2 linked regions of the Homo sapiens genome follow. The protein of the gene in region 1 purifies or fractionates together with the protein of each later gene. This does not show direct contact. Each region holds a gene or a part of one and is shown on either strand. Other genes may lie near its edges.

Evidence for each region. The genes of interacting proteins can lie anywhere in the genome.
Region 2: the proteins of HNRNPCL2 (region 1) and KIF23 purify together in Homo sapiens (affinity purification with mass spectrometry; 2 studies listed by BioGRID and IntAct, with this or other methods). This does not show direct contact.

What each region holds. Positions count from the first base shown.
Region 1 is NC_000001.11:13,114,987-13,120,765, forward strand, and holds HNRNPCL2 (heterogeneous nuclear ribonucleoprotein C-like 2), read right to left. Parts: upstream 1,869-5,779; 5' UTR 1,807-1,868; intron 1,596-1,806; 5' UTR 1,415-1,595; coding exon 533-1,414; 3' UTR 502-532; downstream 1-501.
Region 2 is NC_000015.10:69,417,310-69,424,348, reverse strand, and holds part of KIF23 (kinesin-like protein KIF23), read right to left. Parts: intron 6,967-7,039; coding exon 6,838-6,966; intron 2,703-6,837; coding exon 2,597-2,702; intron 2,358-2,596; coding exon 2,221-2,357; intron 2,024-2,220; coding exon 1,914-2,023; intron 1,191-1,913; coding exon 1,020-1,190; intron 1-1,019.

The DNA.
Region 1 (5,779 bases):
TCTGAGGATGCATTTGACATGCCAACTCTCATTCACAAAAATACATTGTTAGATTTTTGTTGAACTGCCCCACACAGCACACTAATATGGGGTGTAACACACATACTTGTAACTCCAAGCTGCTTTCAGGAGCTACTCAACTCAATGAGATTGCCTTTGCAGTTAGGGAAGCAACTACTGAACTTATGTATGAAAGAAAAGAACTGTATTCCCTGCATAACAAGAGATTATTTTGGAGACAGTTGATAAAAACCATACATCCTTTTTACTGTTAAGTCATAAAGAGGTGTCAAAATTAAAAGCAAAAATTACAGGGTAAGACTTAGGAAAACTACTAGGGGTGTCATGGGAAGTGAAAATGGGACTAGGCGCAGGGCAATATGAATTAATGAATGTGGGAAGGACAAGGATGGGGAGAACAGTAAGCATGTGCTGAAGATACTAAGGGAGAGGATCTGGTGAAAAATTTGTTGTTAGACAAGCTCCTAGGTAAAGAAACAATGGGATAAGATTTCTCAACCCCACTATGTGCTTAAGAGTCATCCTGGCCATTGGTGCTGTCTCTGTTATCCTCTCCTTCCTCAGCATCTTTTTCATTATTCTTGATCAAATGAAGCTGGTTGTCCCCCTGATCTTCATTATCATCATCATCCAGTGGGTCCCCCTCCTCAGCAGAGTCTTCTGCACCCCCCTCAGACTCCATCTTTACATGAGTCTCATCTTTCTTCATGGAGCTACTGCTCTGCTCCTCTTCTGACTTAGCATTTTTCACCTCTACCTCTTGTTTGCTCTGTTCCTTTTCAATTTTTTCCAGGTTTTCCAGGAGAGAATCCACTTTCTGTTTTATCTGGGTCAACTCCTGCTTAATGGCCTGAAGGTCATCTCCTTTCAGCTTTCCAGACTTGGAAGATCCCCGCTTTCCACTCTTAGAATTGAAGCCACTTTTGCCCCTTCGTGAGGTGTTTCCTGATATGCGCTGGCGTTTCGAGGGCACTACAGCCAGAGCAATGGGAGGAGGAGGAGGTACACGTGCTGGGAAACTGTACATCCCATCATAATAATCCCGTTGAAAGCCATAGTCCAAGTCAAAAGAGGAGCCGTACATCTCCGCTGCGGATCGTTTCACACCTGCGTTTCCTCGGTTCACTTTTGGCTCTGCAGCCAGGTTAATAACTGCAACCTGGCTAGCAATCATTCTGCCATCCTCTCCTGCTACAGCAGCCCGGGCATTTTTCTCCTTATCATATTGAACGAAGGCAAAGCCCTTATGAACAGAGCAGCCCGCAATTTTGCCATACTTGGAAAAGATCGCCTCCACATCAGATTTCTTGACAACAAGAGTGTTGAGATTCCCAATGAACACACGGGAGTTCACGGAGTGAGGATCCATCTTGTTGGTAACGTTGCTGGCCATTGTGTTGGATGATAAGGTTTCTCAAAAAGCCAAAAACAGGAGGCGGGAGGGAGAAGAGATTCGATTCTAAGTCTCCTACTGCCGGGTTCTACGGGGAGAAACTGACTGCGGCTCGAGGCCAGAAATGCAGCCAAAACAGCTCAGTCTTCGTCTCTTCACAAAATGGCTGCCAACAAGAATTCTGAAATGATGTAAAGAAAAGCACAACAACATTTTTGAAATCACGACAAAATTGCATTTAGAAAAAAAAATCAAAGCTTCAAAGTGTTCATATGAAAAAAAGAAAAAAAGACATGATATAGTTCTATGCCATCGTAGGCTGCACTGTCACCGTTCTAGACCGGCTGACTGTAGGTCACATGGGAGTGTCCTTACAGAAATTAGTGACTTACCAGATCTGGTTGTAGTTTAGAAGGTGCTCAGACCTCAGGAAGAGCCAAGCAGGAACTCCAGGCTTGAAGACTTTGAGTTTGTCCTGTGGGTCTTTAGAAGCTTTTATTGACCTTTCTAATCACAACTCCCACCCACGCCCCTCCACGTATCCGCTGCTAGCTTCCAATCAAAAAGCGATATCTGATTGCATTTCTGAAGCTCCACTCAGTTAATCCTGATTGGGTTTTTGACTGTCCGAAGACTAATGGATTGAACGAGATATCCATTCATATCACATATGCATAATCATTTTATGAATTAAGAAATTGACAGAGTTAGGGATAGAGTGGAAATCAAGAATTCATTCACTCAAGGCCAGGTGAGGTGGCTCACACTTGTAATCCCAGCACTTTGGGAGGCCAAGGTAGGTGGATCACCTGAGGTCAGGAGTTCAAGACCAGCCTGGCCCACATGGTGAAACCCTGTCTCTACAAAAATAGAAAAGTTAGCCAGGCACGATGGTGGCTGCCTGTAGTCCAGTTACTCATGCGGCTGAGGTGGGAGAATCCCTTGAACCCTGGAGGCTGAGTTTGCAGTGAGCCAAGATTACACCATTGCCCTCCTGACTGGGCGACAGAGGGAGATTTTGTCAAAAAAAATGCATTCATTCATGAAATCCACAAACACTGATGGAATTTTACTGCTATTTCGCCTTCAAGTCCTGATGTGAGGCAGGGAAGGGGTTGATCTGTTCCAGACATTAGACAGAAAAATAAAACCTGAAAGTAGTGTTGTGGGGAGATCTTTGGCCACATCAAAATTATAAAATTTATAAAAATATTTCTAGTTAAAATAGCTGTATAAACACAGAGGAGTCGTCCCTACAAAATAAGAATAAAGATCTCCATGTATGGAATGGTCTTGTGGGTTTTATATCACCTAAGGTAGCAGTTTCTTCACTCGTGCTGGTGGAAGAGAGGTGCCACTGAGGGCTTGAGTGGTCTCAGGGCTTAGGTTAAGTCTTCTCTGGAAGAAATTGAAATGATACCTGTAAACTTTATAAGTTTAATCAGTGAAGAAGGGAGGGGGAGAAACAAAAATAAACCAAGCTTGCAGCGCATTCAGCATTCACCATGAGGTCAGCTTGCTCTCTGACCTTCTTCCTCATGGTTGCTGGCAGCTTACTGTCCCCAAATCAAGTAGACCTTAGCTTACAGTTCCCCTTAACTACCCTGCAGACAACAATTTAAGCCTTGTAAAACATTAACTTTCTCATTTGAGATATTCTTTCAGGTTCTGCATGTCAGTGAAACTACTGATGCCAGCTGATCTGAAGGGCTCTGCAAGGCACCAACTCACCAAAGAATGCAGTTTTGACATCCTGATGACTTCATCCCTCTTACCTCTACACCAACTTTCCAGCCCCTTGCTATCCAGGATCCACTGGAAACCCTCAGTACTACTTGGGGAGATGAATTTGAGGATATCCTCCTAGCTTCTCATTTAGCCACCCTGTGATCATTAAACTGTCTGCTGCAAACACTGCTGTCTCAGAATATTGGTCAGCTACTGTGCAGCAGGCATAGGAACCTGATGGTCCTGTAATAAAATCATGTCAAAATTACAAAGAGAAGTGAGGGTAGAGGATGGGCATGGTTGAGCTGGGTGTTTTAATGGGATCCTGGGAGTTAACCAAGACTTGGTAAACATGTTGGGGGTTACTGAGGGGGTGGAGGTGGAATCTATCCAACATTTCACTGATGCCCCTTTACTTTTGATTCTTAGGACCAAGGTTGAGTCTTTCAAAACAATTTGTATAATCCTCCTTATTTTTCCTTTCAAAACCTTTGTCTTCCTTTTTCTCCCAAAATAATCTCACATCTATTCCCATTGCTTTCCTCATTTCAGGATAAACACATCTTTTTTTTTTTTTTTTCTGACAGTCTCCTTCTCTGTTAAGTTTACCATATATTTTGTTGCCACTGAAGATGAGTAACTTGGTTTTATGGACAGGAAGGGTGAAAAGGATCCCATTCCTCAACAGCTGGAGGTGATATGAAGGTCATTGTTATTCTTTGTCATATCTGCACCTGCATATTGCCAGTGAAAACCTGAAGGTCTCATTGGGGCAAGCTTAAAAATTAGCCACCTATAGAAGGTCTTAGCATTGGCTTACATCCTGTCCCTGAGTAAAGAATCTGATCATGAGTTCATGAGTACCTCAAACTCTACAAGTACTGATGAAGTCTTCACCCGCTGACAGTGAGAAGGACACTGATTTTATTCTGATCATGAAGTCATGCTGGTTGTCTTGCAAGGAAAATGTTTTAGCCTGTTATGTTGTCATCTAAAGCTAACGATTGTAACCTCTGTCTTGTACCTTCCAATGGGAAAAACAAAAACAAAAACTCAACTCTATTTGAGCCTTGCCAGGTCAATAAAACAAAAGAAAATTAAAAAAAATTGATAGGAGGAGTCCCATTCCCTTCTTTTAACCTCTCTTACAAAAGCATTCCAACTTGTAACAGACTTTGGAAAACACTCACTTTGTCAGTGTGTGTCTTCCAGGTCGATTCTCACATTTAGCTTCCAATAAAGCTTTATTTAATTATTTCTACCTCAATGGCCTTAACTTCTATTGATACCAGGTTGCATGGTAATGGTTTGAATTGGGGTGGGAAGAAAAAGTATTTCTATGAGTTTTATAAAGTAATCCTTGCATGCCATCTGCATTGAAGAATGAATAGGTTCCTCTCCAAATATGTCCTGAGTATTGATGCATCCAATAAATAAAACTATTATGTATTTCACATAGTAGAGCTATAGACACATTCTATTTGCCTCTAGAGTTTCCAATGAACCAATGTCTAGTTTCAGTAAGTTCTCTGATTAAATGGCAGAGGGTAACATGGTCATGTTCTGATTCTATGTCTATGTCGATACCTATAGCACTCCAGTCTTCATAAGGTGTGTCAAACCAAAGAGTTTGATTCTAGTGGGAATCTGCGACACTACCTAGATTAGATCCAGTTTCACTAATGTTTTTTATGCATAGAGATAAAATGCCAGTAATGTAATCAATAATAGTCATAGGCCACCCATTTGCACCTATAGCTTCTTCTCAGTGCCAAGTCATGTAATTATAAATGTTAACCAACCTTCCAAAGGAAGGATAACAAACCTTATCATGAAGTTGGCATCCTCAATTGCTACCCAACTGTTTATGAGAGCATGTTCTACTATTTAGTTGTGATCCTTCCCTTTCATGTAAATGACTCCATAGCCAGCAATTGCTTTGGTTAGTGAGAGTGGCTACATTTTGAACAGAAGACCTTAGAAAGTGTTTGGTTTGAGTGGAGAAAGTACCTAACAACATAAAATATAGGTTTGAGCATTTTGTTTTAATACAAAACAAAACCAAGTCTCAGTCAATGGAAGAAGATCAAATGGAGTCTTGTTCCATTGTCTTGGAAAACTGTCTACCATGTGATGATGTCTGCTTCTAAGGAAGGCTTTTCCTTGGTTATCCTTAGTTTTAAGTCATCTGGTACAGTCCCATCCAGTGCTGCTCATGGGCAGATTTCCCTTGGTATCATTTCTAAAGGATGCAATCTCCAAATTCTAGGGCATGAAGGTCTAAGCATCACTGAAAGCCTCCCTCACCTACTGGAAAGACTTTGAAATACTGCATCAAGGTCTTGCAGTATTGAATCATGTTGTTACTGAACGATGGGCTCACTCTCCTAAGTGCATAGAAGTCCTTTGAGAAAAGAAAAAAAGATTAGGCTGGGCAAGGTGGCTCAAGCCTATAATTCCAGCACTTCAGGAGGCTGAGGCAGGGAGATCACAAGGTCAGGGGTTCAAGACCAACCTGGTCAACATGGTGAAACCCCGTTTCTGCTAAAAATACAAAAATCAGCTGGGTGTGGTGGTGTGTGCCTGTAATCCTGGCTACTCAGGAGTCTGAGGCAGGAGAATCTCTTGAACCCGGGA
Region 2 (7,039 bases), on another chromosome or scaffold:
AACTCTTAGTATTAAGAGTGTTAATATTTTTACATTTAGCTTACTTAGCCATATTGTAATTGTTTTCCCAATAAACGTGATGAAAATTCAAGGACTCTGGTGAAGATAACTGTATCAAAATGTGACTCACTAAGAACCACAGAAATGCTTGTATCAAGTATGGCCTCAACCAGAGTCCATAAATTCTTCATGTAATTAAAAGTGGATATACTGGTATGTATTCTCAGTCTAATGATTTTCTAAATCCAGCTGTTTCTCCAATAATGTTCCCTTAGATATACAAAGTTAAATATAAGCCACAGGTCTTCGTATTATTTATGTCCTGAGAGGCCCTAATAAAGACAGCATTAAAGACAAGCCTTTAGCTGAAAAACAAAACCATCAACTCAGGAACAAGATACTAATATTAAACATAAGATCCCAGGGTCAACTCTGGCACAAATGCAGATTTATCATTTGTGATGCCAAGTGGTAACCAGTCTTACGTCTCAGAAAGGCAAGACCCAAGGAAATCTAGGAAGTAGTATTTCAACTCTGATGGAATTACAGTGCAGATATCATACCATATTAATGAATGATAGAAGATATGTAAGTATTACTTGTATAGATAACAGCTTTAGGCTCCAGTCTGTAGAAATCACCAAGACACGGGTGGTTAAAGAGCCTACAAAACTCCTTTTACTGTCTCAGGTTCTTGAAACGTTCTTAATTATATAATTAAGATCCTTCTCAAAACATAGCCCAGGGCCCAGAGTTTTCAAAAGTAATCTCCAAGATGAATATTTGGGTCCCTCTTCTCCTTAGATGCTTTAACCCACTAGTTCCCTAATACAGGTACATATCTAGTTAATAATAAACATACTCAAACACAAAACCACGTGATATACAAATTATATCATTTCATTCTGAAAACAAATGCAAGCATTATTCTCTTTCATAACTGAAGAAACTAAAACTCCTTGAGGCAAAGTAACTTCCCCAACATTAACAGCTAAGAAGGGGCTCTCTTTATTACTTACTTGGGTTTTATGGGATCAAACGGCACCTCTTCCAATAGATCATATATGTAATTATTATATATTTCAATATAAGAGACAAATACACCATAGACACTATCTTCATCAACCTCTTCTGCTTTGCAGAATTCTTGTACAGTTATCATATCTGCAAACTCTGGATCTACTTGTCGTCTAAAAAAAGAAAAGTTCAATTGTATACGTTATAAGTCCATTTTAAAAGTAAATGATCCCAGCCGGGCATGGTGGCTCACAGCTATAATCCCAGCACTTTGGGAGGCCGAGGCAGGCGGATCACCTGAGATCAGGAACTCAAGACCAGCCTGGCCAACATGGTGAAACCCCGTCTCTACTAAAAATACAAATTAGCCGGGCATGGTGGCGTGTGCCTCTAATCCCAGCTACTAGGGGGGCTGAGGCAGGAGGATCGTTTGAACCTGGAAGGCAGAGGTTGCAGTGAGCCGAGATCATGCCACTGCACTCCACCCTGGGCAGCAAAGTGAGACTCTGTCTCAAAAAAAAAAAAAAGTAACTGATCCCAAGGGGAAACTAACAGATAAAATAAATATCTGCAATTACAAGCAGAAATGCACAAAGCAGCTTTATTCATACTCATGGTTTGCCAACAGTATTCCCACGTCCTCCCGAACACACAACAATGGCTTTTATACCCTCTCCCCATCCAGAGTGGCACCCTCTTAAAACAGTGATTGAAACAAAATGTGCTCAAAGCCAAAGAGAAAACATCTGAGCAAAGAACTTAAGAACATTCCTTAACTTTAATCTCACAAAAGTCAACTTCTCTATTTAATGTTCACCATTCCTCATGTCTGGGCAAACCACAGGAAAGAATCCTGTGCCCCTAGGCCAGTGCTGCAGACAAATATAATTACTTACTTGCTAGAAGAAGTCTTTGGATTGGGCATAGCTTCTCTTTTCTGACGTTCTAATAAGGCATCAACCTCACACTGTATATCCATACTATTCCTATCATTAGATTTGAAAACCTGAAGTGGGGGCAAAAAAAAAAAAATCACACCACGTTTTTTAGAATTTAACTTAAATAGTAAGAAATATGTTTAAAAACTAAGGAACAGTTAAGGTTTCAAAATGAATCCAGTGCTTTGGTTCTTCTTTACTACTACTGTATCCATAGGTGTCTTAGTCCAGTAAGATAGTCACAACACAAAAGAATCATACTTACATATCGTTTAGCTTGAAATGACCCTATACTGTTAAAGATCATGTCCAAACAACGAGGAAGCAGCCCTCCTTCCCCTGGAGAACCAGTCATTGTGTGAGTTTTTCCACTTCCCGTCACACCATATGTAAAAAGAAGACCTACAGTGTAGCAAGTCACAATGAGTTATATCTTAGAAGTTCTCCACTTAGAGTATTTCTTCACTGCATTAGAAAACACTAACAATTAGCCAGCTCAAAAAAGGCAAGTTTAGCACCACCCTAACAAATTAAATATGGATTCAACACCAAACATAAATCAAATATATAAATATCAAAAAAGTTTTATCAGAAGAGGAGAAAAAGGAAAATCTAACAAAACTCCAAGAGTCATATCATACCATTTTTGCCATGAATGAGGTCATTGACCAAGGGATTAGCCACAACATCAAAGAGTTCCTTCTGGGTGGTGTGAGTGCCAAATACTTGTTTAAATGAATACTGAGTCTGTGGAGAGAGAAAAAAATGCACTAAATAGAATTCCACTATTATCTAGGCTAAAAATACATCTCCTTAAACTTAAGGTGTTTATGACATTTAAGATCTAAGCATGCAAAGAAAAAATATAAATGGTCTTTTTACAGTTGGAACCCTTAGTTATTTAGTTACTAAAAAGTCATGACATACCTATATCATACCAATTATAAACTGGTAAACGTTTTCAGTCACAACTACTAAAGAAAATGTAGAAAACTCTTTTTTTTTGAGACAGAGTTTTGCTCTTGTTGCCCAGGCTGGAGTGCAATGACACAATCTCGGCTCACTGCAACCTCTGCCTCCTGGGTTCAAGCGATTCCCCTGCCTCAGCCTCCCAAGTAGCTGGAATTACAGGCACGTGCCACCACACCTGGCTAATTTTTATATTTTTAGTAGAGACGGGTTTCACCATGTTAGGCTGGTGTCAAACTCCTGATCTTAGGTGATCCACCCACCTCAGCCTTCCAAAGTGCTGGGATTACAGGCGTGAGCCACCACACCTGGCCAAAAATGTAGAAAAGTCTTAAGTCTACTAATGCTTCTAATCTAAGGCTGATTTTGTTTTAATTAAGTGACAGAGATCAAAAGGTATTGTAACGATTCATAGTCACAGATTTGTGGAAATCTACAAGCATTATGTCATACACAACTTTACTGTTTCCTAGTTTTTCTTTATAAAGGTGTCATTTAAAATAGCAAAGCATGGGCATAGTGGCTCACACTTATAATCCCACTTTGGAAGGCTGAGGCAGGAGGATCACTTGAGGCCATGAGTTAAGAGACCAGCCTGGGCAAGCTCATCTAATAAAAAATTTTAAAAGTAAAAACAACAAAAAAACCTCACCAAAAAACAGTGAGCTGTGGTCACACCATTGCACACCAGCCTGGGCAACAAGTGAGACCCTGTCTCAAAAAAGAAAAAGAAAAAAGACATATAAAATAAAATGGCATAGCAGCATAATACCACGTTTTGATGTACTATAGTTTAAAACCAGAAGTAAACTGTAAATATTATCTCATCTCTGAGTTCTTACATGAAATACATTTTAAATAAATTGTGACCTTTAAGAAAGCAAGAATACTTCAATTATCAAGGCTCTCTAAATACAATTAATAAAATATCCTGTAAAAATCAGCTTTAGAGTTCAAAAAGAACAAAGAATCTTGGAACTGAAAGGATACACATAGGCTAATACTGAGAAGATAGATGACCTCACAGTCCTCATGAATGACTCCCTCCTTTCAAGGTAAAGAAAACTGAGGCCCGAAGGTGAAACTTCTCTGAGCCCATGGAGTTAATTAGTATCAAAGCCATCATCAGTGCAATGTTTTTGTTTTCTTCTTTTTTTTTTTGAAACAGAGTCTCACTCTGTCACCCAGGCTGGAGTGCAGTGGTAGGATCTCGGCTCACTGCAACCTCTGCCTCCTGGGTTCAAGCAATACTCCTGCCTCAGCCTCCCGAGTAGCTGTGATTACAGGCGCATGCCTCCACGCTGGGTAATTTTTGTATTTTTAGTAGTGATGGGGTTTCGCCATGTTGGCCAAGCTAGTCTCGAACTCCTGATCTCAAGTAATCCCTCTGCCTCGGCCTCCCAAAGTGCTGGGATTACACATGTAAACCATCATGCCCGGCAGCAATGCTCTTTTCATTATACAATGTTGCCTTCTGTCAGAAAGCAGTGACTATTTTTAATCCCCATCAAACCTTTTTATACCTACTCGATACCTACTCGATACCTATATTTATACATACTTGAAATTTACTTAAAGAAGTAAAACTCAGTAAATCAGTGTTTAACTATATTATATCCTTAAAGACCTGCTCCTCCAAAAAACCCTCCCAGACCATTCATTCTTGCTGAAGCCATATTTACTATTTGATGAACAGAACATATAAGGTACATATTCCCTGGAAGTTTACATTATGGTAGAGGAAAGACAATAAACAAGTAAACAAATAGATTGTGGTTAAGTAATGTAAAGGAGGCATACAGAGTACAGACCAGGGGAGAGGGGTTGTGGGGTGCTGTTTCTGATTGGGTAGTCTATACAACCCGAGGAGGTGATATTTAAGCTGAAACCCAACGATGACCCATGCTAAGACCCAGAAAAAGAGAAGTCCAGGTTAAGGCAACAGCTAACAGCCAGGATTCTGCCTTATCCAAGAAACTCAAAGGATTGGATGAATACTAAAAGATGAATGAAGGTGGAGAGACAGATGGGAGACGGATGAAGCAGGATTTTGTCTGTTCAAAGATTTTATTCTTTGAAAGGTTTTGAACAGGAAAATGAGATTTTATGTTTTAAAAGATCACTGTCTGCTCTGTAGAAATGGATTAGAGAAGATTCCAAGTGGAGGCAGTTGGGCTTTGGAAGTCTTGTCAATGATACCCAAAGCACACTCAGCAAACCAATGCCAGTCTGAGATTGGTTACCAGACTACTTAAATGTTTAGAAAGTTGTTTTTTGTTTGTTTGTTTCTTTGTTTGTTTGTTTTTTGAGATGGAGTTTCACTCTTGTTGCCCAAGCTGGAGTGCAATGGCGCGATCTCGGCTCACTGCAACCTCCGCCTCCTGGGTTCAAGTGATTCTCCTGTCTCAGGCTACTGAGTAGCTGGGATTACAGGCACACGTCATCATGCCCGGCTAATTTTTGTATTTTTAGTAGAGACAGGGTTTCATCATATTGGTCAGGCTGGTCTTGAACTCCTGACCTCAGGTGATCCACCCACCTTGGCCTCCCAAAGTGCTGAGACTGCAGGCATGAGCCTCCATCTGGCACTGCTCAATTATCAGTATTTCAGCATGTATTCAATAGGCTCATCTCTATGAAGAGATTATGAACTAGTTCCCTATTGTCTAACTCACACGGGCAGTTCCATCTAGCACAAGTTGTACAAAAGTCTCAGCTGTGACGCATTAAAAATAAAAAAGCTACTCCTTCATTACAGTAGCTCTGGTCTCAGTGATTAATAATGGGGCTCAGACTAGGGTGGTGGCAGTGGAGATGGAAATGAAAGGACAGTTTCAAGACACATGTTGGAATATAACTGATAGGAGCTACTAATGAACTAGTTATAAGGAGAGGCAAGTAAAAGGTAGGTACCAGGTTTCTGGCTTGAGCAACTGGACACACGATAGTGCCATTCCTTGAGAAGAAAACAAGGGAGGAAGTATTTAGAGAGGGAATAAGAAAAATCAAGAACTCCTTTTTGGGCATGTAAAATTTGAGATGCACATGTGACATCCAAGCAGAGATATCAAGTAAGTGGTTGAATGTTGAGAGCCAGAGAAAAGGTTTCAGCTGGAGATACAAGGAGAGCTGGAGGGGGAGACAGGAGAGTGCTGCTGACAAACAGGTTAAAATGAGGATGAAGAGGTATACATCAAATTTAGCAGCAAAGAGGCCACTGGTAGTCTTCTGAAGAGCAATTTCACAGGAATAGTAGGCACAAAAGAGTGAGTGACAGCTAGAAGTAGAAATGGTAGCCTGAATTAATCCTACTGCATTCCCACGGTCCCCTCATCTTTAGCACATCTAACTTTCTGTCTTATTTATATGAGAATTATTTGTTTACCATATATCTTAAGTTATAAACTTTCTAAAGGCAAGGAGTATGTCATGCTCTTTTTTTTAATCTCCTTCCACCCTCCAACTATTAGCTTAGCACATTTGCTAAACAATATTTTTGAGCTGACTCAAAACTTTACTAAAAATAAAAACACTGCATAGGAGGTTGATGCAAGTAAACAATGTCTATTATTAAATGTTATTTTCATTTCCACACATCAAGTTGTATATATAAAACTGCCTAGCACAATCATGTATCATTCCACATTAAATCATCCCTAACACATGCTCTAAGAAACAATAATACTCAGTGTAAGAAATTATCTGCTAAAAGCAATCCTCTAACCCCAGCATACCAAAGGTATGTCTGTGCATCCCAGAAGTCAAAAACACTTTAGATACAGTGGTTATAATGAAGTAAATAAGTCTTTTGAAAATGTGGGCTCACAAATGAACTTTGTTACATCTAAAAATCTAGAAGTCATTCAGGAAACAACATATTGAGTAAAAACAACTTGGTCCAAATCAGAATTACCTCCTTATAGTCTCCATTTCGGTTGAGTCTGTAGCCCTCAGGAGTATGAAGCTGAACAGTTGTATTATTGATCACTTCTATGCAACACTCTTGATCAGGAAAGCCCAGTGGGCGCACCCTACAGTATACCTGAAGAAATAGGAAGGTGCTTTAAGAAGAAAGTTCGACCTTTTGCCTGATTTTTCACTTAAGCTTCTCATTC